Regions from separate parts of the Homo sapiens genome. Here regions 1, 2 and 4 are each reported to be linked to region 3. Evidence: microRNA targets listed by miRTarBase, many of them from high-throughput screens and not tested one by one. Region 3 holds a microRNA gene; each other region holds the end of a gene's coding sequence.
What was found. The annotated mature microRNA hsa-miR-4709-3p reads UUGAAGAGGAGGUGCUCUGUAGC and lies in region 3 at 4,119-4,141, opposite strand. An mRNA with a match to its seed (bases 2 to 7 or 8) in the 3' UTR can be bound and repressed. Matches are read on the target gene's strand: a 7mer-m8 pairs with bases 2 to 8, a 7mer-A1 pairs with bases 2 to 7 and ends in A, and an 8mer does both.

Region 1: the mRNA of DNAJC5G is a reported target of hsa-miR-4709-3p. Seed matches in the 3' UTR shown: 7mer-m8 at 5,414-5,420.
Region 2: the mRNA of ZNF425 is a reported target of hsa-miR-4709-3p. Seed matches in the 3' UTR shown: 7mer-m8 at 1,905-1,911.
Region 4: miRTarBase lists CASP5 as a target of hsa-miR-4709-3p. The part of its 3' UTR that is shown has no 7-base or 8-base seed match.

The regions. Positions count from the first base shown.
Region 1 is chr2:27,278,850-27,285,972 of GRCh38, reverse strand. DNAJC5G (DnaJ heat shock protein family (Hsp40) member C5 gamma) reads right to left here. Exons shown (of 7, transcript NM_173650.3): 6 at 5,740-5,807; 7 at 4,474-5,544. The coding sequence ends at 5,758. TRIM54 (tripartite motif containing 54) reads right to left here and starts at 3,544. Exons shown (of 9, transcript NM_187841.3): 1 at 3,074-3,544. The coding sequence starts at 3,241.
Region 2 is chr7:149,097,824-149,104,942 of GRCh38, reverse strand. It overlaps ZNF425 (zinc finger protein 425), which reads left to right. Exons shown (of 4, transcript NM_001001661.3): 4 at 1-2,159. The coding sequence ends at 1,331. Among named protein-coding and RNA genes, the nearest start is that of ZNF786, 11 kb to the right of the region's middle.
Region 3 is chr14:74,476,017-74,483,139 of GRCh38, forward strand. MIR4709 (microRNA 4709) reads right to left here and starts at 4,188; the gene lies at 4,117-4,188. NPC2 (NPC intracellular cholesterol transporter 2) reads right to left here. Exons shown (of 5, transcript NM_006432.5): 4 at 4,686-4,763; 5 at 3,924-4,272. The coding sequence ends at 4,258. It also overlaps a transcript of SYNDIG1L not described here and the pseudogene RAP1AP.
Region 4 is chr11:104,989,167-104,996,283 of GRCh38, reverse strand. CASP5 (caspase 5) reads left to right here. Exons shown (of 10, transcript NM_004347.5): 9 at 442-544; 10 at 1,937-2,041. The coding sequence ends at 540. Among named protein-coding and RNA genes, the nearest start is that of CASP4, 24 kb to the right of the region's middle.

The DNA of each region.
Region 1 (7,123 bases), not on the chromosome of region 3:
ACAGGCATGAGCCACCTTACGTAGCCAGTATTTTTAAATAAATTGTTTTCAAATTTTGCTTCCTGGCTGTCTAGTTAACTTGGTCTTATAAAATCACAATTCCCAAAAACTCTTGTTTGTTGTCCATCACGGCAGTTTTTAGGACAACAAAACACAGAAAACCATCTAAATGTTTTAGAGGACAGATTATTTAAATAGACTGTGGTCCAGTCATAACAATGAAAACTACACAGCTATTTAAAAACGAAGACATAAATCTGAATGGTGGATATGGAACAATCACCCACAGCGAGTAAGTGAACAAAGGCAGGTGGGGGGCGATGGGTCTCGCCTGAGAACACATATACATGCAAATGTGCCGATTTGTGGAAATTTTCTGGAAGTATTCCCAAGAAAGTTGGTAATAGTTACTTCTATCTGGTGAGACAACTGAGGGTCTGAGGTGAATAGCAGATTTGCTTTTCATGATATGAACTCCTATACTGCTTGAAAACAGTATGTTTACATGTTACAAATTCTAAGTGATATACTGGTATCACTTTGATAACCGTTAACTTTCTAGGCAATGCTCTAAGGGTATTCTTCCTAAGTGGTTTGAAGGTAGAGGAAAAGTCCTATTCTTTCCAAAAGTCCTATTCTTGCCCCATACTTAGAAAACAGACAATCTGATTATGCCTACAGTTGTCAAAATGTGGAGGCAATGTGCGAAAAAACTAAATATGCTCATCTTTCAGAGGGAGATCTACTGAGATATATTGAGATACACAGATCTAAGTGCAGCTGAAGAACTGGGTCAGCCTCCCACCAGGCCCTCCCAAATAAGCAGCAAGGGATGAGCTGTTCACTCTTCCTCCTTGGAGGGCCCAAGGGTGCTTTGCACCTCAAAAGATACACCACTCCAGATCCACAGAGCCACCCCAAAGCCCTGGGTATCATGTTATCTCCAAATATTCTGTACAGGATTTGCCCCAAGCCATTCCAAGGTCTCTCTGAGCCCAGATCCGTATTCTAGAGCTTTCTGGAACTGAAACAGTGTGCTTGGATAGAGAGAGTTGACTTAAATAAGCAGGTCACTTAAACACATTCTAGCCTCCATGTATGGGGCCTATTCCTCTGCCAGATGACAGAGGGACCCAGGAATGCACTTGGCCCTTCTGACCACTTTTCTACAGGACACATCACCTTAGCTTTCAAAACTTCTCTTTGCTTTCACACATTTCAAGTTCCAGTGTGAGGATGTTTCACTGTAAGTTCATGAGAAAGGATGGCAAAATCTTTCTGCCATTTCCCTCCTAGGCATCTCAGCCTGAAGGATGTTCAGAGTTACTTAGACCAAGGAAAAACCAAGATGGTGGGCAAAGCATTGCCTCTCATGTAGGACTTCATGCCCAGGACGAGGAGGCACAGCATTTGGTCTAGGCCCCCCGAGAGGGAAAATCTACTGGCTCTGAGATACTCTGGAGCTGAATAATGGCAGGTTTGGACACATAAAGAATAGGAGAGGGAATGGGTCTCAATGGGAAGATGGCAGGAGAGACCACAGAGTGCTGGTCTTCAGTGAAGGTGGCACAGAGCAGACACACAAGGTGTGGGTCACAGGGTACATTGTGGGATGGCCTGACCTAGCCAGCCCATTCCTTTCCAAAACAAGCTGCCCCAAGGAACTTAAAAAGGGAAGTATTTTCTTGGTTAGGTTAAAAATCACTTGTGTTTAACACATTTCCTCATCATTTCTGACACAGATGAAGAATACTTGTTTGGGATGTTCCATGTCACTGACACACATACTAAACCAGCCAGCTCTGGTCTATTCGGGGTTTGTTTTTGTTTTTGTTTTTTTGAGATGGAGTCTTGCTCTGTCGCCCAGGTCAGAGTGCAGTGGCATGATCTCGGCTCAAGGCAACCTCCACCTCCTGGGTTCAAGTGATTCTCCTGCCTCAGCCTCCTGAGTAGCTGGGACTACAGGCGCCTGCAACCACGCCCGGCTAATTTTTGTATTTTTGGTAGAGATGGGGTTTTACCATATTGGCCAAGCTGGTCTTGAACTCCTGACCTCGTGATCTGCTGGCCTCAGCTTCCCAAAGTGTTGGGATTACAGGCGTGAGCCACTGCACCTGGCCATATTCAGGGCTTTTACTTAACGGCAAGGCCGTGTGTGTGTGTGTGTGTGTGTGTGTGTGTGTGTGTGCGCGCGTGTGTGTGTGTGTGCCTTTGCCCCTCACTCTCCCTGATCTCTGTTCCATTTTATAGCCTACTAGAACCTCCCCAGTAGCACAGGAAAAAAAAAAAAAGCCCACTTATAATCCATTCTGGTATATGCTGCTTTTATTTCTAAACCAGTGGCTATACTAGTATCTGTGAATTTGATTAGCTCTGCTTGGCCCCATGACCACAGATAAAACAAAACTGGCTGGACTTCTGAGAAGTAAATTTCTTTGCCTTCTCCCTGCTTGTCAAGTGACCTCAGTAGCTTTTAACCAGTAGGCCTCTTTACTGAACAATCTGGAGGGTAACAGGTATGAACTCAAGTTGGGGAGAGTTCCCAGTCTCCTGCCCACTATGTCTAACTCTGTCACCCACAATGGATGCCTTCAACTTTCCTTAAATACAAATAGTTTTACTGCCATTATGGAGCTTTCTCACAGGGTCGGGTTTTGTTTGTTTGTTTTTTAACGTTTCATTATCTCATTAATCTTTTCTCCGTATTTTCCACAATGCTCTCGAAGTCTGAAACTCCAAACTGGAATGCAGAGTCTGGCACAGGCTCTTATAAAGCCCGGTGTGGGATACCCTCCCTCCCAGTTTCCACAGGGTCTACTTTCCTTGGTAGATCCCAGCACTCCAGCTGCCGTCTATGCACAGGCTGTACCTGCCAGCCTGCAGGGCAGCTGCTGACTCATGCTTGCTCTGGGATTTGCTTGGACCCCAGCCCTTCTGCTCTCCAGCCACAACAGCCACCACCCACCTCAGAGAGCACTCTATCCATCACCTTCTGGGGTCTCAGCTCTGACCTGATCAGTCCCCCACAGGTCTGCATTGCTTTACCTGGCCCTGCCCCGTCCCTGGCACCCACCTGGAAGACGTCGTTGGCACATTTGCGGCACAGGTTGTGTTGGCAGGGCAGGATCACCACTGGTTTGGAGAACATCTCCAGGCAGATGGGGCAGATGAGCTGCTTCTCCAGGTTGTCCATGCTGTGTGCATCCCCTAGCAGCGGCTTGAAACCCACTGTGAAGTTCATCCCCTCGGTGGTCGTGCCTGGCCTGGGCCCTGCTCCTGGCCTTCACTCACTGCCTGTAGACCCTTCCTCGCTTAGATGGCCTCTGGATTCCCTTCTGTGGCTCACTCTTGAAATAGCTCTGCTTTCTCTCCTGTCCCTTTAACAACTTGTCTCGTCCCAGATAGCAGTCTTCGGACAGTCTCTACTTTCTGCTCTGCACCCTCGCCAGGCTCACGTAGTTTTAGCTATCCCTCTCTCTCTGTAAAATTCTCCTTTTGTTTCCCAAATGACTCTCTCTTGTTCACTCTGTGGGTAGCACTGTTTGTCCCTTACTCCCCAGAGAGCAGATTAATTTTACTGTGGGGGTTGGGAGACAAGGGGCATCTGCATGACATTCCAATTCCCAATTTAGCTCATGTAAGGCGAGCCACAGCTGTCATGGAGTGAGTGACCCTGACTCACTCAGGAATGGGTGACTCCCTTGAGCAAGGGCAGGGGTGAGTGCCACTGCTTACAGTGAAAGGTGGGTCAGCAAAGGTGCTGCCCTCTCACTCTGAAGGCTCCTCTCAGCCCGGGACCCCTGTTCTGGCTTGGGCCCTTCTTCCAGGACAGTGACACAGAATCTAAATCTGCCTGTGTGAGAGGCACCCATACATAGCTCAGGGTGGGAGGAAAGATCTTGCCAGACTTAGAGTCAGTAGCGGTTGCCTCCTCCACAGGCTCAGCCAGTGACCCTGGTCCTCCTCCTCAAGACTGTGTGATTCAGAACAGCAGCTCCAGGGACTACATCAAGCCTCTTGTCCAACACCTCTGGCTCATTTTTGTTCTTCCCTGGCCTTTTCTTATATCACCCTAGGAAAAGAAGCTCAAGAGGCTAGAAATGACTGTTGTGCCAAGGCCTGGACCTACCTATGAGCATGCCCCCGAGGAAATGTGGGATTCTGGTCCGTGAACACATCCCTGGAGCCACTCCAAGGACTCAAATTTGTTAGGAAATTGGGAGAAGGTGAGCTGGGCAGAAAGGACCTGAATGCCAGGGACCTATTTTGGGCACCCAGGGAATCAATCTCCAGGGAAATTTTAGAGCACTGACAAAGTCATAATCACAAGGCTCCGGGAAGCCTCTGACCCAGCTCCACAGTTGTCCAGGACTCCTACTCTCCAAGCCAGGCTTGCCCCACTTGTGAGCACTGGTCTTCTTTTTCTCCTACAAGTCTTCTCCACTTGATCTTAGGCAAAAGGCCAAGAAGCAATTTCTTTAGGCCTTTTTTCTCTACCCCAGACACAATTTGTCTTTTTTGGGCATAATATATGCCTTGGGATTGGATGAAAGCTCTTTTATTTACTGACATTCTTTAGCCTTTCTCCTAGTCCAGGGAGAGAAGTTTGAGGAATTAGTAGGCTGTGACCCTGAGTGGGTGGGAAATACACGGTGTGAGGAGGATACGAAACAGCAGCACAAAGAGGCAAGAGTGGGAAAAGAGTCCAGAAAGTACAATCTTTTCCAGATCACATATTTCATGCCCCTATTTTTAAGAACAAATTATATGTCAATTGGCCTGCATAATATGTGAAAAGGATGGAGGCAAGCTGGCACTGATGTTTGAACTTCAGTTAACCTACAGGACCAAGGCTAATGCATGCTGTGCTGGTAGCTGAAGTCCAAGGATAATCTAAAGATGGAATGACTACCCCTAAGCCTCAAATGCACTCGCAGTTTTCCTGAGTTGACTCATAGTGGCATGGAATGAGGCTGGCAATGCCAATGGCCGTGGGCACCAGAAGATGAAACCAACTCCATACAGGCGTTATTGGCTTAGGAATGAGGCTGATGCTAGGGGTTCTTGGTACACAGAGTTGCAACAAGGGAGAATTAATGGGTGCAGCAGCTCCAGGGACAGGATCCACCCTGCTCAGTTATCAGGCTCTTGGTGGTGATATCGCAAGGGGCTCAGGGATCCTACCAGCTGGCATTGGTTCCAATAACAAGGCAGACACAGGAAAAAGACTCTTCAGGAAAAATCTGCCACCACTGCCTGAGACCTCATAAGGGGAGGGAGGGGAGGGCTGCTTTCTGACGGAGTAAAATTGGGACTGCAACTGAAAGGAAGAGTAGCTGGGCAACCCCATACAGAGTTGTGGTACCAAGGGTAGAGGTGATGTCCTTACTGGGATCAACGTCATCAGTGCTTCTGAAGAGATTCTTGAGATCCTTATAAGAAGAGGGGTCAAATCAGGGTCAATGTCAGGACAGGGCTACTTGCTCCTCTCTTCAATGTGTCCAGGGGACTGGGCAGCAGAAGGCACCCTCACTGGGTCAGCACCTAGTGGCGGAAGAAGGTGGCGCTTTATTAATCAGAAGGAATAATTACCTAGAACTTAAAGCAAACCCCTACATGTAAGGATATAAACACATAGTCCATACTATAAGGATGTAAACTTTCTACTAATGACTCATCTGACGTTAGCTTACATGCTTTTCTTATCTGATAACTGTTGCTGCCTTTCGGTTTACATACCTCATCCTTCTTCATCTCTTAAAAATCATCTTCGCTATTTTCCTCGCTTCTAAAATCACATTTGGCTCCTATGATGGAATTATATATATGTTTACATATACAAACGTTTAGTAACTTTTCGTAGTGTACTGATGAGAAAACCGTTACCTTGCAGTTACTCATTAGCATCACCAGGTGGCGCTGGTGTCAAGTTCAATCAGCTTATAAAAGTTCATTTGGGGGGGAATGATCTCAGACTTTCCTTTTCTTTTCTTCCTCTTCCTCTTCCCCTCCCCCTCCTCCTCCTTTCCTTCTTCTTCTTCTTCTTTTTTGATACAGGGTCTCACTCTGTCACCCAGGCTGGAGTGCAGTGGCATGATCACAGCTCACTGTAACCTCAACCTCCCAGACTCAAATAATCCTCCCACCTCAGCCTCCCCTGTAGCTGAGACTACAGGTGTGCACTGCCATGACCGGCTGACTTCTGTATTTTTTTTTTTTTTTTTGTAGATACTGGGTTTCATGATGTTGCTGAGGCTGGTCTCAAACTCCTGAGCTCAAGTGATCTGCCCACCTTGGCTCCCCAAAGTGCTGGGATTACAGGCACAAGCCACTGCAACTGGCCCTTTCCTTTGAGTAGATGGAAAAAATTGCATCCCGCCAGGCACAGTGGCTCATGCCTATAAACCCAACACTTTGGGAGGCCAAGGCAGGTGGATCACTTGAGGTCAGGAGTTGGAGACCAGACTGGCCAACATGGCGAAACCCTGACTCTACTAAAAATAAAAAATTAGCCAGCTAATTTTTTAGTAATCCCAGCTACTCAGGAGGCTGAGGCAGTAGAATCGCTTGAACCCGGGAGGCAGAGGTTGCAATGAGCTGAGATCGCACCACTGCACTCCATCCAGCCTGGGTGACAGACTGAGACTACATCTCAACACCACCACCACCAACAACAACAAAACAACAACAACAAAAATTGCATCCTCAAATCTGTCTTAACCTAACTGTCCTCTCTAGACATACTCTCCCACCCCATTCCTTAGCTTAACAGGAGCTGACACTACTACCTTCAAACTGTCAGTTTGTCGTGTGATGCACAGAAACATATTGATCTTTTTTTTTTCTTCACTTTGTCCCAGTGCCAGACTTGAAGACTTGAAATTGTCATATTTAGGGATTAACCTGCCATTTTCACAGGTCTTTCTCACCCTCAACCATTTCTTTCTTTCTTTTTTTTTTTTTTTTTTGAGATGGAGTCTCACTCTGTTGCCCAAGCTGGAGTGCAGTGGCATGATCTTGGCTCACGGAAACTTCCGTCTCCCGGGTTCAAGCAATTCTCCTGCCTCAGCCTCCTAAGTAGCTGGGGTTACAGGCGCCCGCCACCACACCTGGCTAATTTTTG
Region 2 (7,119 bases), not on the chromosome of region 3:
CCTTCGTGCAGCAGTGCGAGCTCACGGAGCACTTGCGGCTGCACAGCGGAGAGAAGCCCTTCCAGTGTCCGCAGTGTGACCGGTGCTTCCGCCTGAAGAGGGGCATGAAGGTCCATCTGACCCAGCACAGCGGGAAGAGGCCCTTCCACTGTCCCGAGTGTGGCCGGAGCTTCTCCCGGAAGGCTGCCCTGAAGACCCACCAGAGGACGCACAGCGAGGAAAAGCCGTTTTCTTGTGGTGAATGTGGCAGGAAATTCATCTACAAGATTAAGCTGGACGAGCACATCAGAGTTCACACGGGAGAGAAGCCCTTTTCGTGTCCCGAGTGTAACAAAAGTTTCCGCCTCAAGAGAAGCCTGAAAGCCCACGGGCTGCAGCACATTGGGAAGCGGCCCTTCCAGTGCCCGGAGTGCAGCAGGGGCTTCTTCTGGAGGAACGCCATGCGCGCCCACCAGCGCCTGCACAGCGAGCAAAAGCCCTTCCCCTGCGCCGAGTGCGGCAAGCGCTTCACGCGGCCTTCCAAGCTCGCCTGCCACACCAGAGTCCACGACAGGCAGAAGGAGTTTCCCTGCGGCGAGTGCAAAAAGACCTTTTCTCAGCAGTCGCGGCTCACGCAGCACCTGAAGGTCCACACCACGGAAAAGCCGTTCTCCTGCGCCGAGTGCGGCCGCAGTTTCCGCCGACGCGCGCATCTCACAGAGCACACGAGGCTTCACAGTGGCGAGGAGCCCTTCCAGTGTCCCGAGTGCGACAAGAGCTTCTCCTGGAAGGCCTCCATGAAGTTCCACCAGCGGATGCACAGGGACGAGAAGCCCTTCGCGTGCGGTGAGTGTGACAAGACCTACACGCATCAGTCTCAGCTCACCGAGCACCTGAGGCTGCACAGTGGAGAGAAGCCCTACCAGTGTCCTGAATGCGAGAAGACTTTCCGCCTCAAGGGAAACCTGAAAAGCCACCTGCTGCAGCACAGTGGCCAAAAGCCATTCTCTTGTGTGATGTGCGGCAAAAGTTTCACTCAACAGTACCGGCTCACAGAACACATTCGAGTCCACAGCGGGGAGAAGCCCTTCCAGTGTCCGGAGTGTGACAAGAGCTACTGCATCAGGGGCAGCTTGAAGGTCCACTTGTATAAGCACAGTGGAGAGAGGCCCTTCCAGTGTCCCGAGTGTGGCAAAGGCTTCCTCCAGAAGAGAAGCCTGAAGGCCCATCTGTGCCTTCACAGTGGGGAGAGGCCTTTTTCTTGTGATGAGTGTGGAAGGAGCTTCACGTACGTGGGGGCGCTCAAGACCCACATTGCAGTGCATGCCAAAGAGAAGCCCTCCAGCCTCTAGGTCAGGCCATGCAGCAGTCACGCAGTCGGCTTTCAGGAGGTGCCAGCAGCTCTGTTGGCTCAAGTTGAGGCAGGTTGAAGGATTCACAGGGTAAGATCGGGCACAGTGGCTCCCGCCTGTAATCCCATTACTTTGGGAGGCCCAGGTGGGAGGATCGCTTGAGCCCAGAAGTTTGAGACCAGCCTAGGCAACATTGCAAGACTCCATCTCTACAAAAAATATAAAAGTCAGCCAGGCGTTGTGGTGCATGCTTGTGGTCCCAGCTACTTTGGGAGGTTGAGGCAGGAGGATCGCTTGAGCCCAGGAGGCAGAGGCTGCAGTGAGCCATGCTCACACCACTGCACTCCAGCCTGGGTGACAGAGCAAGATCTTGTCTCAAAAAAGAAAAAAAATCACAAAATACTGGCTACAGACACACTGGACAGGTGTGTGGTCTGCAGAACTCTATGGCTCCTTGACAAAAGTTCCAAATAATCCATAGACAGTCAAAGAGACATCTCCCTCAATAATCGTCATAGGAAAGACGTGCCAGTTGTGGAGGAAACATTCACACTGATCTGCTAGTCCAACGATCTCTTCAGTGTCATCCAATAATCCCTTCATTAAATTCAGAAACTACAGCCTGAGTGAAGAAATGTTACAGCCAGGAACATATTCCTCAGTCAGCTTTTCCATTACCAGGCCATTTTACTTAAATCTGTATTAAAGTCTTCAGTTTTCTCTCATAGTGGATTTTCATTTTCTCTCAGATGGTGAGAGGGCTTCTGTTTCTTGGAATGTTTCCATATTGCTAAAAATAAATGTCTTCCACTATCTCATTTGTTAAAATGATTACCCATGTGTTCTTTCCTTCTGAATTTTACTTAAATCACCTAAAAGTCCACCACTGTGAGTAACAGGCAGTGTTATTTATCTAACCCCTCTGCATTTTCAACAGTGTTATGTCAGTTCTCAAAGAACTATACTTAACATTAGGGTCTCTGAGGAAAATACCAAAGGATAAAATACTGTCAGTCCACAGCACCACTATTTTTTTTTTGCCCTGTCGCCTAATCTAACATTATAAGATTTTCCAGGCTATTCTGGCAAACCCTCATCTGTCTCTCAGACTGTCAATCTTTGACATTACTCGTTTTTTTTTTTTCTTGAGATGGAATCTCGCTCTGTCACCAAGGCTGGAGTGCAGGGGCGCCATCTCAGATCACTGCAAACTCCACCTCCTGTGTTCAAGTGATTCTCCTGCCTCAGCCTCCCGAGTAGCAGGGACTACAGGCGTCTGCCACCACTTCTGGCTAATTTTTTGTATTCTTAGTAGAGACGGGGTTTCACCATGTTAGCCAGGATGGTCTCCATCCCCTGACATCCGTGATCCGCCCACCTCGGCCTTCCAAAGTGCTGGGATTACAGGTATGAGCCACCGCACCCAGCCTTTGACATTACTGTTAGGATAACTTACAGCCTTCCTTAGGAAATTTGAGTACCTTCATAAATTTTGTGTGTGTTGCACAAAACATGGTCCCCAGTTACCGAAGTCAGAATCTGCTGGGATCAAAGTCGCTACAAGAATCACAGCGTCGGCCGGGCGCAGTGGCTCACACCTGTAATCCCAGCACTTTGGGAGGCCAAGACGGGCAGATCACGAGGTCAGGAGATCAAGACCATCCTGGCTAACACGGTGAAAACCCGTGTTAAAATACAAAATACAAAAAATTAGCCGGGCGTGGTGGCGGGTGCCTGTAGTTCCAGCTACTCGGGACGCTGAGGCAGGAGAATGGTGTGAATTCGGGAGGCGGAGCTTGCAGTGAGCCGAGATCTCACCACTGCACTCCAGCCTGGAGGACAGAGCGAGACTCTGTCTCAAAAAAAGGAAAAAAGAATCACAGCATCTATACAAAGAGGAAAAAGGTGCCGCCTGTGTTTGGGACAGTCCTGTGGGTAGGGAATAGGCTGCTATTTATGTGGTACACCTCAAAAAACAAAACTAAAGTGCCAGTGATCAGATAAATGAAATGCCAACAGTTTAACAGGTAGATTCAGAACTAAAAATAAAATAATGTGAAAATAAAGACATTTTTAAAAAATGCTTTTCAGAAAGAGTTTTAAAAGATAATGGGTGAGGCACGGTGGCTCATGCCTGTAATCTGAGCACTTTGGGAGGCCAAGGTGAGTGGATCACCTGAGGTCAGGAATTTGAGACCAGCCTGGCCAACATGGCGAAACCCCATCTCTACAAAACTTAGAAAAATTAGCAGGGCATGGTGGTGTGCACCTGTAGTCCCAGCTGCTTGGGGGCTGAGGTGGGAGGATTGCTTGAGCCCAGGTGGTTAAAGCTGCAGTGAGCCATGTTTGCACCACTGCACTCCAGCCTGGGTGACAGAGTGAGACCCTATCTCTAAACAAATGAAAATAATAATAATAATAATGAGTACCCCACAGTACCACATGCTGCAGAAAGAGGTCAAAGAAGAAGTTAAAGGATTATAAATGTCAGTGAGAGATATTACCCTGAGTGGCTGAAGCAAAAGCATGGGGCTGAGTAGAACACAGAAGAGAAGGGGCAGTTCCATGACGTAGTTCAGAAAGCACAGGGCTTAGAGTAAGTCCCACAAAATAAAACAGACCCTCGCTCTGGCCTTGGGCAAGACACTAGAGCTCTGTAAGTTTTACTTTCTCCATTTAATATAATGGTGAGGGGAGGGTACCTTTATGAAAATCAGCCACATCTACAAAAATAAATGCTGTTTTTCAGCTATACTGGTAACACAGGCATTCTCTAGTATGAGTTAGGTGATGGATTGCAGTACATGGAGTGGCCTACAGAATCACTCCCAGTCCACACATGGGGGACTGGCACAGAAACAGCAATAAGGAGTGCTTCTGAGGTCAAACCGAGGCAGGAATTAGGAGAAGAAAGTGACCAAGTGCAGGTAGAGAATGGGGAGGAGCTGAGAACAAGGAGGAGGGGTAGCTTTAAGAAAGGAGAGACTAGGCGCCATGGCTCATGCCTGTAATCCCAGCACTTTGGGAGGCTGAGGCGGGCGGATCACGAGGTCAAGAGATGGAGCCCATCCTGGCCAATATGGTGAAACCCCGTCTCTACCAAAAATACAAAAATTTGCTGGGCTGGTGGCACGCGCCTGTAGTCCCAGTTACTCAGGAGGCTGAGGCAGGAGAATCGCTTGAACTCGGGAGGCAAGGGTGGCAGTGAGCTGAGATCGTGCCACTGCACTCTAGCCTGGTGACAGAGGGAGACTCTCAAAAAAAAAAAAAAAGAAAGAAAGGAGAAAGGGCAGGGCGCGGTGGCTCACGCCTGTAATCCCGGCACTTTGGGAGGTCGAGGCAGGTGGATCACCTGAGGTCAGGAATTTGAGACCAGCCTGGCCAACATGGTAAAACCCTGTCTCTAGTAAAAATACAAAAAATTAGCTGGGCGTGGTGGCAGGCACCTGTAATCCCAGCTACTCGGGGGGCTGAGGCAGGAGAATGCTTGAACCCAGGAGGCGGAGGTTGCAGTGAGCCGAGATCGCGCCATTGCACTCCAGCCAGGGCAGCAAGAGCGAAACTGCGTCTCAAAGAAAAACAAACAAAAAACAAGAAAGGAGAAAGGAACTGTGGTAAGCATTACCTGGAACTTCCCAGATGCTCATGCTTATCAGGAGCCAAGTAGAAGTTTCTATCTAAGCTGTCTTTGCCCCCAAATCTGGTCACCTAAGTAAGGGAGTATAAATTGTTTCATGACCAGTACTCAGATTCTGGAAATAAAGGCCAAGTTAATAATGGACACTATAATGTGAGGATGAACATGAGATTATGAATGTGAAATACATAGTGTCTAGTCAAGAGTAGGCATTCAGGGCTCGGCACGGTGGCTCATGCCTGTAATCCCAGCACGTTGGGAGGCCGAGATGGGTGGTTCACTTGAGGGCAGAAGGTCGAGAGCAGCCTGGCCAACATGGGAAAACCCTGTCTCTACTACAAATACAAAAATTATCCGGGCGTGATTGCATGCACCCATAGCCCCAGCTACTCGAGATGCTAAAATGGGAGAATCACTTGAACCCAGGACGGAGGTCACAGTGAGCTGAGATCATGCCACTGCACTCTAGCCTGGGTGACAGAGCAAGATCCTGTCTCAAAAAAAAAAGAGTAGGCATTCAGTAAGATGTAACCCCATGTTATGAACGGAATCATGTCCCCTCCCCTTTCCAAATTCACAGGTTGAATCCCTAACCCCCAGTGTGACTGTAAGATCAACATGACACCTTTACTAGTCATAAAACTAACACAGGAGAGCCCAGCGTGCACATGACCTGAGCAAAGTGGGTGAGGAGGCAGAGGCTGCAAGTGCTGTGCTCACGGAGCTCCCCCTCAGTGGAGAGGAACACCAAGAATGAGGGAGAAGCGCGCCCACCTCCAAAACCAGCAGCAAGCTATGGCTGTTTGTGTGCGTGACTATTTGGCTGTCCCTAGCTGCATCTGGTACAGCCATCTCTTCTGTTACCACATATGTGCTAATGACTTTCAAATCTATAAATCCATATTTTCAACTTGTGCCATGAACATCTCAAACACAAAATGCCCCAAGTAAGACTTGTCACCTGTATCAACCCTCACTCTACCCCCGTTGTTGTTGTTGTTGTTATTGTTGTTTGAGACGGAGTCTCGCTCTGTCGCCCAGGCTGGAGTGCAGTGGCGTCATCTCGGCTCACTGCAAGCTCTGCCTCCCGAATTCACGCCATTCTCCTGCCTCAGCCTCCCGAGTAGCTGGGACTACAGGCACCCGCCACCACGCCTGGCTAATTTTTTTGTGTTTTTAGTAGAGACGGGGTTTCACCGTGTTAGCCAGGATGGTCTCGATCTCCTGACCTCGTGATCTGCCCATCTCGGCCTCCCAAAGTGCTGGGATTACAGGCGTGAGCCACCACGCCCGGCCGTTTTTTTTTTTTTGTTTTGTTTTGTTTTGTTTTGAGACAGAGTCTCGTGCTGTCACCCAGGCTGGAGTGCAGTGGCGCGATATCGGCTCACTGCAAGCTCTGCCTCCCAGGTTCAAGCAATTCTCCTGCCTCAGTCTCCCGAGTAGCTGAGACTACAGGCGCCCGCCACCACGCCCAGCTTATTTTTTTTTTATTTTTTATTTTTTTGGTATTTTTAGTAGAGGCAGGGTTTCACCATGTCAGGCTCGTCTCGAACTCCTGACCTCAAATGATCCGCCTGCCTCAGCCTCCCAAAGTGCTGGGATTATAGGCATGAGCCACTGTGCCCGGCCTCTACCCTTCTTTGTTAGACTGTTCTGTATTTCCTACCTCTGTATACTAAATCTACCTCATCTCCAAAGTTATAAATCTGATGATGCACCTAGGTTTTCTTACACCCAATCTAGCATCTAGCTCCTGATTCTTCCCAAACAAGATCCTTTCTCGCTATCTCTGTTGTTACTACTTGAAGCTCACTTTATTTATTTATTTATTTATTTAATAGTGTTTTCCTTGACAGGTTTCCTTGCTTCTGGCTTTTTTCCTCCAGTACATTTATCATCCATCTGCCAGATGGGTTCTTCTAAAATGCAATTCTAACATTGGTCCCTTCAAGAAATACTTAGAAGTTTCCCATTTTGGCCGGGCGCGGTGGCTCATGCCTGTAATCCCAGCACTTTGGGAGGCCGAGACGGGCGGATCACTCGAGGTCAGGAGTTCAAGAGCAGTCTGGCCAACGTGGTGAAACCCCGTCTCTACTAAAAATACAAAAATTAGCCAGGCATGGTGGCACATGCCTGTAGTCCCAGCTACTT
Region 3 (7,123 bases):
GTAAAAAAATCATCTTACCACTAAACACTAATGTGAGAGTTACTTTGATTGCAAAACAGAAAAGAATCTTACAAGCATTGTGTGTGTACACTGAGAATCTCCATCAAACCTCATCTTTCCTATGTTGATCCATTTGCAGTATCCCCCTTTGTGGCAGAGGCATATGGATGGTTGAGGGTGTAGTGGGCAGAGCAATGCATTTCTCCAGCGCTGAGAACAGTCTGCTGCTGCTGGCCTGCTCTCTGCTTTTTGATCTGGCACACCCAGCAGCTCTGCCATGTTCAAGGCCAGCAGCCATCCATTTGTCTGCCAGGCTCCTTCTTGGCCTTACCCACTGGCAGTCAGAGCTAAGCTGATCTTTCTGCCTGCTGGCTGCTTATCTGGGACATATGATTTGTGGAGGACGGCCTGCTAGAAGGGAGCCGTCCTTCTCCAAGCCCCTGCAGGTGAGGGGAGCCACACTGACATGCCACGTCTGCTCCAGAATCTCAGGCTCTTAGTCTCCATTTGCAACTGCAAACACCTGTGCTCTGTGGCTAGCATTGGGCAGTGAGCAGAGAACAGGCATGGGAACATCTGCAGAAAGTAGAAGAGGTCACTGTTCTTCTGCCCCAGTCGAGAGGAGCTGGCCGGATCCACTCACCCACATTGCCCACCCTCTTCCAGGACCCTTGAGCCACCTATGCAGGCCATCTCCTGGTCTCCACCCTCCCCTCCACCCCTTTTTAGGAACCAAACCCCTGGTTTGGAGAGCCTGGTAGGTTCCCATAGCAATGGGCCTTTTAGCTGTTTCCATGGCAACCAACACCCAGACCATTTAGTTGCTAGTCAACTGACAGCTGTAAGTGAATCGGATTCAGTTTAGAATCTAGGGATAGGCTGAGGAATTCTCTTCAGAGAAAAAGACACAACCACCCAAAATGACTCAAATCCTTCAAAGACTTTCAGGCAACATCTGTGGAGATCCAGAGCCACTTTCTACTTTGGGTCACTCAACCCTGTCTCCCCCCAGCCCCATTCCCAACACACACACACACACACACACACACACACACACACACACACACACACACAACCCTGTCTCCCCCCAGCCCCATTCCCAACACACACACACACACACACACACACACACCCTCGCCTGAGTGTTCCAGGCCTTTAAATAAGGCATACCCCAACCTCTATTTCCTGTTCTGTCTCTTCCTTGGGAAAAACACTTGTTTAACGTGACTTTCACCTTGGCGACTTTCTTACACGACTCCTTTTTCTGTGCTAATGCTTTTCTTATATACTGTAACCCTGTCCTTGTACCAACCCATTTAACCATTGCTTTTTGGATTATCTGAAGTGAATGGCTGATCCCAGATCATTTTCTCTTAGTTGACCTCACCTATTTCAAGCCACTCTTCCTATGTCTGGAGGGTGTTCTCAGAGAACAAGCTGTTTTTATCAACCTTTCCAAAGCATAATCAAGATCACCCTGTTTCTTTTCTGAAAGACTTTGTGTTAAAAAAAAAAAAGATCACTCTGTTCCTTTTAAAAAAAGTCAACTAAGATTTAAAAACCAAATATGCAGGATTTAAAATTACTCCATGCTTGTTGCTTTTTATTAGTATGAAGATTTGACTGAATACTAGTCTTCATATTTAACCTTTTCCCAAACTGGAGATATGAGGTGTTGGGTTCCCTTTATTCTATAAGCAGGGGTGCCCCTCATTATTATTTCAACAATTAGAATCTGGGATTTATCTGTCCTGGAATTCATGTAAGAGCTGAGCCTCCAAAACCTGCTCCGTGGACTAGAAAAGCATGAGACGGTCATTGGAAAGAGGATGACCTTTTTGATATACCTAAGATTCAGTGCTTCTCAATGTTTTAATGACTCACGGGGGCGTCTGTGAACTGTCTGTAGAAGACGACCTTTCAAACTAATCCCCCCACGGGAGCCCTACCTAGCTCACGGCTGCAGGCTTCATGTAGCCCCGCGATGGCTGGCAAACAGTCACAAGCTGTTGTGTTCCCCTTTTGCTCTGATGGAAGGGTATAAACTAGCCGAAATACTTTTTAATTTCGATTTCTGAAATATCTACTTATACTCTTTGTCTTTAGTGCTTCCCCACCCTTTTCATTATCACTCCTTACAGGAGCTTTTATGGACCTTTTAATCCTAATCGACCACCCCACCAAATTTTAATACCGCAGATATAATATGTATCTGTTTATGTATTATCTGTCTGTTCCTGCTTTACACATAAAAAGATTAAGAATTTTTTTGTCCCTAAGAACAAATTTTCACAAAGAATGCAAGTTATAAACAATGAAAGATATACAGTATTAAAACATTGTTTCAAATTTGAAGAATAAGTGGAGGAAAGAAAAATATATTTTAGAACTTAGATATGTAAATTATTTCCAAAATAGTTTAACACTCAAACTAGTCAGCTGTATCAAAATCAATTCTCCCTGAAGTAGGCACTGTTCCTAGCTAGAGGCAAGTACTCATTTTGCATGGTATTGTGAGTCCTGTCTTCTTTTAACACAAGGGCAGAGGAGTATGCAGGGTGGGTAGCTGTTAACTTCAAAGGAGCTAAATGGCATGAGAAATCTTCTGGGAATAGGGAGACAGTGGACACATGAGAATTGAGCTTTTCCAGGCCTTTCAGAAAGTTCTTGTGCACAGAGGATAGCCTCATCCTTCTGAGGAGACATCATCAAATCTCAGATTGAACCTTCTAATTTTCCTGCTATTTGTAGACAAAGAAGAATGTCTGTCTCCCAGAGTGACAGCTAACATTTAGAGAGTATATACTATAGCCAGGGTCATTCTAAGTGTTTTACATGCCTCATCTCATTTAGTCTTCACAGCCCTATTATTATTAGTCCTATTTAACAGATAAGGAGACTGACACACAGAGAGATGAAGTGATTTCAAGATCACACTGGTAGTCCTGTTAATTGTTGGTGCCAGGATTCAACCATAGGCAGTCCGAAGCCAGAGACCCGCACAACAGTTAACAGCCTCAGGAATTCACACAATTCTGATACATCTAGAGTCTGGTATGGGAGACAAGGTGGACTGTCACTCTAGACTCAATGTGGCAGGATACACAAAAGATCTTAGGTAAAAAGTACACTGGTTGACTGGCTCCTAGCATTAACTAGGAAAGCTTGGCTGTTGATAACTGTATTCCTGATCCATCACTGTCCCCTGGTGGTTTTCCTGGGAAACTCACAGACCAAAGAAATCCAAGGGTCTAGTGAAATTAGTGGGATGAAAAGAACTGGATCAAATCAATCACTTGCTCACAAGCACTTTGTATGAATGTTCCTTCCTTTTGCCCTAACAATGGATGACCTAAGGTCCATGTTATTCAACTCAATTGTGAATGGGGTTGTAATCCCTGTACCACCTAAGAGCTGACTGCTAGTATACTGACTCAAAATAGGTGGCAAAATATATGCCCATGATTATACTTGTACTTTAAGATAGGAAACTCCAAGATTTAATTAATTTAGCCATTACTTGCTACAACTTCACATTTCATTTTTAAGCTTCTAGGCTTTCTTCACAGCAGTGTTCCCAAAAGATCACCATGCCTCATCCTAACCTGTAATCCCTAACCCCTACCTGCCCTCCCCACCAAATTCAGTTCCTTCAACCTTTCAGGCGTTATTATTCAACTAGGTGATTTTTACTTTCACTGCTTCTTTCGAGCATGCTTGGTGGTATAAGATTGTGTCAAATAAAGCAAAACAAGGCCATTTTATATAAAATAGATATGGTCTTACTGGACAAAAAGGAGGAAAAAGAGTTTCTGAAAAAGTCATGTCTTCAGTGCACTCTGGGACCACGGAACTGGGGGCCTGCCTTCCATGGTTCTAGCAGAATGTACCCTGAAAGGAGCAGGAGAAGACCACAGCCCACATGCAGAAGACAAGACAAACGAGTTTTTATTTATTCAAGAGTAAATTTCCAGGTGTAGAAAGAGGCCACAAGTTAATGTTGTTAAAAAAAAAATTAAACATCTGCTAACCAAGTGCTGCATTTAATGAAACCACCTAAGACAGAAAAAGAGACATGAGACAACCACTGAGAACCAGCCACCCGGAGCTCAGTTTCTGCTACAGAGCACCTCCTCTTCAACGAATCACTGGATACCATTGGAGAGCAAGTCACTGTTGTTGAAGCAGCAGAGCTGGAGGTGCTGTCAAGAGTCTCAGCAGACTCATTGGCCAGATGCACCGAACTCAATGAGGCACTTAGAGATGAGAAACCTGTGGATGTAATGTCCCAGCTCAGTGGAAGTGGTTTGGAACCTTTCCTCCACTGTCAGGGCAATAACCCTAGGGCAAGTTATCAGACATTCCTAAGCAACCTCCTTCAGGTCCTGTCTGGCTGGACCTTCCTTACTCCGACAGAAAAAAACCAATGAAGACAGTTAAATCAATCTCTACAGTCTCACTCTCTCTTCTTTCCTTCAACCTTTTTTTTTTTTAACAAAGGATATTACAAAGGCAACAGTTCTGAGCTCTCAGGAAATAGGGTCTCAGATGCTTTTAGAGGTTGAGAGGCATAAAACAGCAGTCTTGAAATTCCTTTTATCTTATGGCACTGATTTAGTTTCAGTCTGATTTCTCCTCCACTTTCTTCCCTCCACCCATGCCCTCTCACCCCCAGATAGACTTACGATCTGTACTGGGATTTCCCAGCAGAAGAGACTTTGGTTTTTGTCATCCTGAAGTTGCCACTCCACCACCAGTTTTATCTGGAGAAAGAGAAAAATAATTGAGAAAAATGAAAATAGGACCTGACTTCTATCCATAATTGGTTTAACTATGAATCCTAGATGTACAGTAGCAAACTTCCTAACTCCTCATACTTTTTTTCTTAAATCATGAGGGCTGCTTAGCATGTGGGCACAGCTTACAGCCTTAAGAGAGTGAACAAAGTTATACTTGTGATTTGATGCTAGCAGCACCACATACTAACTTGGTTAATTTATCAAATGTAATTTCTAAAGCATTCTCTTCTCTCTTAGATCAATGGCATATAAATGAAGTGATACGGTTTGGTTATTTGTCCCTTTGAAATTTCATGTTGACATGTGACCTCCAATGTTGGAGGTGGGCCTGGTGGGAAGTATTGGATCATGGAGGAAGATCCCTCATGAACGGCTTAGCACCGTCCCCTTGGTGATGAGTGAGTTCTCACTGACTTCACATGAGATCTGGCTGTTTAAAAGAGTCTGGGGCCTCCCCCTTCTCTTTCTTGCTTTAGTGCTGGCCATGTGACACGCTGGCTCCCCTTTGCCTTCTGTCCTAACAGTAAGCTTCCTGAAGCCTCACCAGAAGCAGGTGGTGGCACTATGCTTCAGGTACAGCTTGCTGAACCGTGAGCTGATCAAACCTCTTTTCAAGTTACCCAGTCTTAGGTATTCCTTTACAACAAGGCAAATGGACTAACACATGAAGGCTTACATGAATAATTTCACATTTAAGCAATTTCTCATGTATTTGGCAATCTGATCCAGCTTTTTCCCAATGTAACCATGAAGAGCAGAGAGTAAAAAAAATTTAGATTCTTAGGTATAAGGAAACGTTCTTGTTAGCTAGAAATGGAAATGTCAAAGCACAAAAGATGGCCTAGAGAAGTCTGTAGCTGTATGAATAATTTCAAGGATGACAACCTTTTGTAGCAATATACTTTCAGTTAACGCCCTTAAACTGCTTTCTAATAATGTACTTCATCAGAAATCCCTGCCTTGACTTGTTACACTCATATCACGTGAGTGGTCCCTTCCAATTCTTGATAACTCACTGACACTCTGCAGGTCCTTTCTTATGTGGACATTAGCTTACTTGTCACTAGTTACTACCTCTCTTTTGTACTCTAATGTTTCTTCACAATGGAACATGTGAGTGGCACTGATATTCAGGTTCTTGAAACTTGCCTTGTGAGTTTTTCCAGACTAGTATACATTAACTACTGCTTCATTTAGTGCTTAAGCAGTTTGAGCTATTTTTCAAATTAAATGTAACTCATTTAACAGACAATAACTACCATACATTAAGTACCTACTACGTATCAGGCTCTGACTAGTCACTGCATACGTAACTGAGGTTCAGACATGCCCATGGTTATGTGGATATTCATCTACTAATCTGTCCCTGACCTCTAAGGTCTCCAACAGCCCTTAAGCACAGACATCCTATATTTGAGTCTCTTTAGAATGTTCTTTAATTACTTACCTTTCCTAGAAAATAAATGGCCAGATATTGCTCCTGAGTTCTACTTGATTTCAAGAAATGCGGCTCTTTTTCTTCATGGAAAAAGGCCATCCCTCTATTTCCTCCATTCTTATCAAGATACATATCTTTAATACAGGTCCACTGCAGCAGGATCTACCTTATGAGTGCTTGGTAGAAAAAGAGGTAGGTGCAGCAGGGATGGGTCAGAGGTGAAGGTGGGGATTGGAGGGCAGAAAGAAGGCTGGAAAAAGCTACCTCTCTGCCATGGAGCTAACAAACTACTGCTCTCTTGTTTTGTTAAGAGATTAATGGAGAAACCAGGATTTTCTGATGACAATGTTAAGACAACTTGGATCTTTAATTATTTGGTACCTGGCTAAAATCTTTTAACATTGCACAGGCTTTGGAGTTATAAGACCCAGCTCAAAACCTGGGCTCCACTGCTTCTTAGTGGAGTGGACTCTGTTCATATTGCATAACTTCAGAGGCTCAAATTTCTTCAGCTGTAAAATAGAGATAATATCACCTCTACATAGGATGGTCATGAGATCCAAGTGAAATATTGTATATAAAAATGGCATCAGCCGTTGCTGTGCAGAGCCGAAGCAGGAGCCGCAGCTGGGAGGAGGGAGGAGGGAGGAGGGAGGAGGGAGGAGGAGGTGGAGGAGGTGCCAGACTGGGGGAATCATCAGTATTTAAACAGACCACATCACGGGTGAGCTAGTGGTCCTTGGTTCAGGAGGTGTTGGGCAGTCTGCTCTGATGGTTCAGTTTGTTCAGGGAATTTTTGTTGAAAAATATGACCCAACGATAGAAGATTCCTACAGAAAGCAAGTTGAAGTCAACTGCCAACAGTGTATGCTTAAAATCCTAGATA
Region 4 (7,117 bases), not on the chromosome of region 3:
GCATGGTGGTGTGGGCATGAAAGTTGTTCAGTGTTCAGGCCTTAAAGCAAGATTCTGGGATTTAATTCTCCTTAAATTGAAGAATCAGCGTTGGTGGGGGTTGAAAGTACTAAATCTTCCATATCCAGTTCTCATGAGCATATCCCAAAGGATATTTAATTGATTTCCACATCCGTAGGTCAAAAATGGAAAATAGAGAAAATGGAGGTTGAAAAGCCTTGACTAGGCATGCAGTGTTTATTTTGATGTAAAGTGTACAGTATGACATGGGGTGTCAATTCTAAGAGGTAGAGTAGCAGTGTTAAGGAGTTGGAATATCCATGGGCTTGGTCCTATCAACCCTGGAAGCTCTCTTCATTCAGGCATTTCCTGGTTCATGGTGTAAGATGCATTCTGAGAACCCAAAATCCCTCATATCTCATCTACTGTTTTTTCTTTTAGGTACAGAAATCATTTGAAGTTCCACAGGCTAAAGCCCAGATGCCCACCATAGAACGAGCAACCTTGACAAGAGATTTCTACCTCTTTCCTGGCAATTGAAAATGTAAGTATTGAGAGTTGTTGGAGGGTGAAATAAATGAAAGAGCTATATCGGTGGTGAAGTTCAATGACCAATGACAGCTGACTGCTTATATGGTCAAGTTAGTGTTCTTTATTGATGTAGTCTGGTGAGTATTTATTTGCTCTTTTTTATTCTACTTATATGCATTTAGTTTCCCTCAACTATATAATCAATCAAAGGGTAAGGAAAATTGCAGCAAAATGTAATACACAATGAAAGTCCTAGGTTAGTAATTATTAAAATAATAATGTACAAATATTACCATTATTAATTATGTTCATTTATCTCTCATACACTCCCTCTCTTTGTCTCTCTCTCTGTTTCTCTCCCACCTGCCACACTTAGTTACCAAACAGTGCATCAGACCTTGAACAAAACAGAGTAAACACAGGAGCTATCTATGGGGAAAGCAGGGCTTTGGTCCTCTGAGTGCACATATCACATTACTGTTGTTGACTTTCTCCTTAGTTCAGCTAAAGATGGGGTCCTTGTCACACGACCATGAGAAATTAGACTCACAGACAATCTGAAAGGTGAGGAGGGCAGGGTTTATTGTGTGAAAAGGAAAAAAATGGGAAACAGACCCTTCACAGAGCCAGAGTCCTGCTAATGCCCTTCCTGCCTCGCAGATTGAATACCAGGTACCACCCAGGAAGAGGAGGGGCCAGGCTTCTCCCTGCTGCAAATGGCATGAACTTCCCAAGGCTCCACCCCAGTGTGCATTCTTCCCAGTGCACAGTCTGGTGGGAGGTTCTGCCAGGGAGCCCTTTTTACTTGGCTGTCTCATTACTGACATTCAGCCACAGTTATGGGACTGTAGAAAATACATGCTCAACTATAGGTACTTTATTCAGGAAAACCTGCCTTGAAATAATGAAATTGGAATAAAGAATGCACAGAGTTGGAGAGTGAATCATGTGGTTCTTATGCAGGAGAGGTGTTCCAGCACAGAATACAAGTGCAAATGCCCTGGGGCAGAAATATGCTGAACAGGTTTAAAAAGAACTACAATGAGATAGTGTGACCAAAAGAGAATGCAAGTGAGGGAACTGACAGAGACAAATTAGGAGAAACAGTGAGGAGCCTCATCACAATGTGCTTGAACATCACATGGTAAATCTTTAAAAAAATATTATCTGAGTAGATAGGAAACCCTTCCAGTGCTTTGGAAAAGAGAAGTGACATAATTTAACTTAGGTTTTACAAAGATATTCCTGAGTACTTTTCACTAAATAGACACAGAGGTCACAGATGGAAGTCGAGGGAAATGGCAAAAGCATATGGCAGAAGATGGAAGAAGAATCATAATGAAGGATGGGATGAAGGCAGTGAGGGGTAACCATCTTGACCTTCTGTCCTTTCTCTCTTCTGCAGGAAACCACAGGCAGCCCAGCCCTCCTCTGTCAACATCAAAGAGCACATTTACCAGTATAGCTTGCATAGTCAATATTTGGTATTTCAATAAAAGTAAAGACTGTATCTTTTTAGATTGTATGAACTGTATCTTTTTAGATTCTCTAATAGACAATATAATTTCAATGAAAATGGTGGACGAGTGAAAATGAAGTGGAAGAAACTAACTAGATTTTCGAGTTTTATGGCTCATGTAACATCTATACTTGGCTGATGAAGACGACTGGCTGTGACTTACCGCCAACAATAGAATGAAAGAAGATGGTGTTAAAAGTATAAGATACCACCTCATACCCATTAGAATGACTCCCATCAAAACATACAAACAAACACAAAATAACAGGTGTTTGCAGGGATGTAGAATAATCGGAACCCTGTGCTCTGTTGGTGACAATGTCAAATGGCACCACTGTGGAAAACAGTATGGAAGTTCCTCACAAAATTAAAGCTAGAATTATCATAGGATCCAGAAACTCCACCTTTGGGTACATCCCTAAAATAATTGAAAGCAGGGTCTCAAAGATACACTTATACACCCATATTCATGGCAACGTTGTTCATGATATCTAAAATGTGGAAGCAACGAAAGTATCCATGGACTGAAAAATGGATAAGTAAAATATTGTATATAGATATAATAAAATATAATTTAGCATAGAAAGGAGGGAAGTTCTGACATATGCTAAAATATAGAGGAACTTTGAGGACATTATGCCAGGTAAAATAAGCCATTCACACACACAAAAATACAATATGATCACACTTATATGAGGTACCTAGATTATCAGATTCACAGAGACAGAAAGTAGAATGGTGATTGCCAGGTGCTAGGGCAGGAGAAAATGAAGTGTCATTTAATGGTTATAAAGTTTCAGATTTACAAGATAGAAAGAATTCTGGAGGTAGATGGGTGATTGTTGTGCAAAATTATGAATGTATTTTAATACTATTTGGCTGTACACTTAAAATTGTTAAGCTTGTAATTTTGTTATGGCATTTTACTACGATAAAAATTGCAAAAATATAATGATATAATTGAAAGTGAGAAGGTATGAGGGCAACATTAATCAACTTACATAGAGAAAATTTAACTACTGAGCAACATTGATGAAAGAAGAAATTAGGATTAAATATATTATTTATTGTTCCACAATTAATCAATAAAAAGTATGAACATCATGACATCATCAAATATTAGGTAGAATAGACCAGATATGTGGCTATGTAAGTGAGCTGCATCTCATTTTTCATATCAGGTAGTCAATGGCATTGTTTATGTTCTATATTTCGGGAAACACAGAGGTATAATAGTCATTATTGAGAATTCCAAATGTTACTGCCAAACAAAACAAAACAAAAATAATTGAAGGAAATTACCTCTAGTATGTGGGACTAAAGGTGGGGAGAGTTGTACTGGGAAATATGATTTTTATTGTATTCTTTTCTGTACTATGGACTGTCTCATGAATGTATTACTTTGACAAAATATTTAAAATTATATTGAATTGACACTTTTAATAATTTATAGATTTCTAAAAATCAGGTAGTATTGAATTTTAATGTGTTGAATTTTTAAAGGGTTTGTCCTATGTTGTGAAGCAAAGATTAAACAAATGGAGCAAATTGTTGATAATATATGATACTGGTGCTATAAGGAAAAAAGGTATAGGTAAATATGTGTCTGCCAGTTATTTATTTATGGGTATCAAAACACCCAAAACCTCAGTAGTTTAACACAATAAGCATTTGCTATTGTTCACAAGGTTACCAGTTAGCTAGGTAGGTCTTGACTCTGCTGAGATTATCCATGTGTCTGAGATCACCTCTGCATGGGGTAGGCATCTTTACTGAAAGGCTGGGATCTCTCATATGTTTGGAAAGCACATGGCTGGTCTAGAATGACCTTGGCTGGCTGGGGCAGCTGGGCTCTTTTCCACATGATGTGTCTTATTAGCCAGCAATGTGGCTCAGGCTCGTCCTCATTTAGGTTCAGGTGTCCACGAGGAAGAAGAGCACCAGGCTTCATAAAGCCTGAGCTGGGAATTGCACGAGATCCTTCTACTGCATTATGTTGGCCAAAACCAAGTCATAAGACTGTTACAGGGTTGAAGCAAAGGTCAAGGATACTAGGAAGCCAATGATTAAGGAAATCAATAAAATCGGTAATATATTAAGTGTTTTACAAAAGCATAGAAAAAATTCAGAAAGATGCAAGCTAAACATATAATTGGGGTTACCTTGTGTCAAATTAAAGAGTGTGGATAATCCTTTTCCACTTTACAAACTTTTCTATTGTTTAATTTTAGTGGCAAACCTATATTTATTATTAAAAAATGATTTAAGTATCAGTCTTTTGTATATTTAACAAACAAAAAAACCCAAGTGAGTGTGATAGATAAACAATACCCCAATTGACACATGAACAGAATTGGAGAGAGAAGAAAAGAGATCACTTATGCGACTTTTTGAAATAGTGAAGGGAGTATCACTGGCAGCCTTAAGTCAGCCTCTGTCCCCTCACCTTCCAAATTTATACTTCCAGGGTTGTGCAGGCAACAGTGGAGTGAGAACTCCCAGCAATTTAGAGACTAGTGGTGGTACAATGAAAAATAGGAGTTTAATTTGAGTTATTAACGGTGTTAAAAATTGACAGGAAAACAGAACACAGAGACTTATGTTTGCATGTAAGTGTGCATGCTTTTATTATGATAAATTTGTTATATCAAAAAGAGAATTTTATAAGGGGGAGGAAAAATCACGCACCAAAATTGAGAGTGCAAAACGATAAGACAAATTTGGGAATTAAAAAAATTGTATGGTTGCAATGTAAAAGTTGAAGTATGGTTTGAAAAGATTAGATGTACTGATGAAATATATAGGAGTAATTATTTGTCCTGGGGACAGTGTAAATTATTTTAGAATATTATTAAACAGGGGCGTTATTTATAGTCAGATTTATAATTAAGAAAGATGGCTTGCAGAATGGACAGCAGGTTGAATGGCATACAGGAAGCCAAAATTGCCTGTGTTACAATTCTTTGCCAAGACTCTTAAAACTAAGGTTGGATAGAATTAGAATTCGTAACTAGGAATCAAAGTAAAAATGAATTGGGTTCAAATAATATGAGTTCTTTTTCTGTTAGTCTTTCATTTCCAAACGACTTCTCTTTCCCTCCATTCATATATGTAGCTATCTTCCATTGGAGATAATAATAATCAGTAATGTCACCCAAAGAGAAAAGAAGAATTTGACTTAAAAGGGGAAAATTAGACTTAAAATATATTAAAAAAATACTCTCTTATCTGCCTTGAAGGGCAGGCATTTTCTGAAATAAAGACAAGAATTTAGTGAAACTATTTTCCTTTACCCAGAAGGATCCACCCCGTTCCTTTTTTCCCTAACATCCAGTGAAAGAAGTAAATAGTGTTGACATATACTCACATTAGCAAGTATTTACACATATTTTGAAAGTTTTAATTTTAAAGACATGGTCCCTGTAATCTTTTGCCTTGTAATCTTTTGATCCATAATCCCACCATCATTTTTAGTTGGAGAATATGTATAACAACAGAGAAAAGTATGAGATGCTTTTTAACTTTTAATTTTGGTGTTATCACAAATAATGAATGCACTTATGAGATACATGGGATATATTGATACAGACATTCAATGTATAATAATCACATCATGAAAAAATAGAATATTTATACCCTCAAGCATTTATCCTTTGTGTTATAATCAAATTATCCCCTTTTAGTTATTTTTTAATGCGCAATTAAATTATTTTGACTATAGTCACCTGGGGTGCTGTCAATTACTAGGTCTTATTCATTCATTCTAATAAATTTTGTACCTATTAACCATTCCCACCTCCTCCTGCAACCCTCCACTACCCTTCCAGCTTCTGGTAATCAACTTTCTACTCTCTATACTCATAAGTTCAATTGTTTTTATTTTTAGATTCCACAAATACATGAAAACATGTGATGTTTGTCTTTCTGTGGCTGGCTTGTTTTGCTTAATGCAATGATCTCCCATTCCATCCATGTTGTTGCAAATGACAGAATCTCAGTCTTTCTTATGGCTGAATAGTACTGCATTGTGTATATGTACCATATTTTTTTTATCCATTCATCTGTTGATGGACACTTAGACTGCTTCCAAATCTTAGCTGATGTAAACAGTGCTGCAAAAAAATATGGGAGTGCAGATGTCTCTTCAATATACTGATTTTCTTTCTTCTGGCTACATACCCCGAAGTGGAATTGCTGGATTATATGGTAGCTTTATCTTTAGTTTTTTTTGAGAAGGCTCCAAACTCTTCTTCATAGTGGTTGTACTAATTTACATTCCCAACAGTGTATGAATGTTTCCTTTTCTCTGCATCCTCACCAGCACTGTTTATTGCCTATCATTTGGATAAAAGTCATTTTAACTGGGGTGAGATGATGTATCATTGGAGTTTTGATTTGCATTTCTCTGATCATCAATGGTGCTGAATATCTTTTCATAAGCCTGTTTGTTGTTTTTATGTTTTCTTTTGAGAAATATCTATCCAAATCTTCTACCCATTTTTATTTTTTTCTTTTACCCATTTTTAAATCAGATCATTAGATTTTTTTCTTATAGAGTTGTTTCAGCTCCTTATAAATTTTGGTTATTAATCCCTTTTCATTTGGAGAGTTTGCAAATATTTTCTCCCATGCTGTTGGTTGTCTTTCACCTTGATTATTTTCTTTATTCCACAGATGCTTTTTAACATGATATGATTCTATTTGTCCATTTTTGCTTTTGTTTCTTGTGCTTGTGGGGTATTACTCAAAAAATTTTTGCCCACACCAATGTTCTAATAGTTTCCCTAATGTTTTATTTTAGTAGTTTCATAATTTGAGGTCTTAGATTTAAATCTTTCATCAGTTTTGATTTTGTTTTTGTATGTGGCAAGAGATAAGGTTATAGTTTCATTCTTCTGCAAATGGATATCCTGTTTTCCCAGCACCATTTATTGAAAAGGCTATCTTTTCCCCAGGGTATATTCTTGACACCTTTGTCAAAAACGAGCTCACTGTAGGTGTGTAAATTTGTTTCTGTGTTCTCTATTTTGTTCCATTGGTCTATGCATCTGTTTTTATGCCAGTACC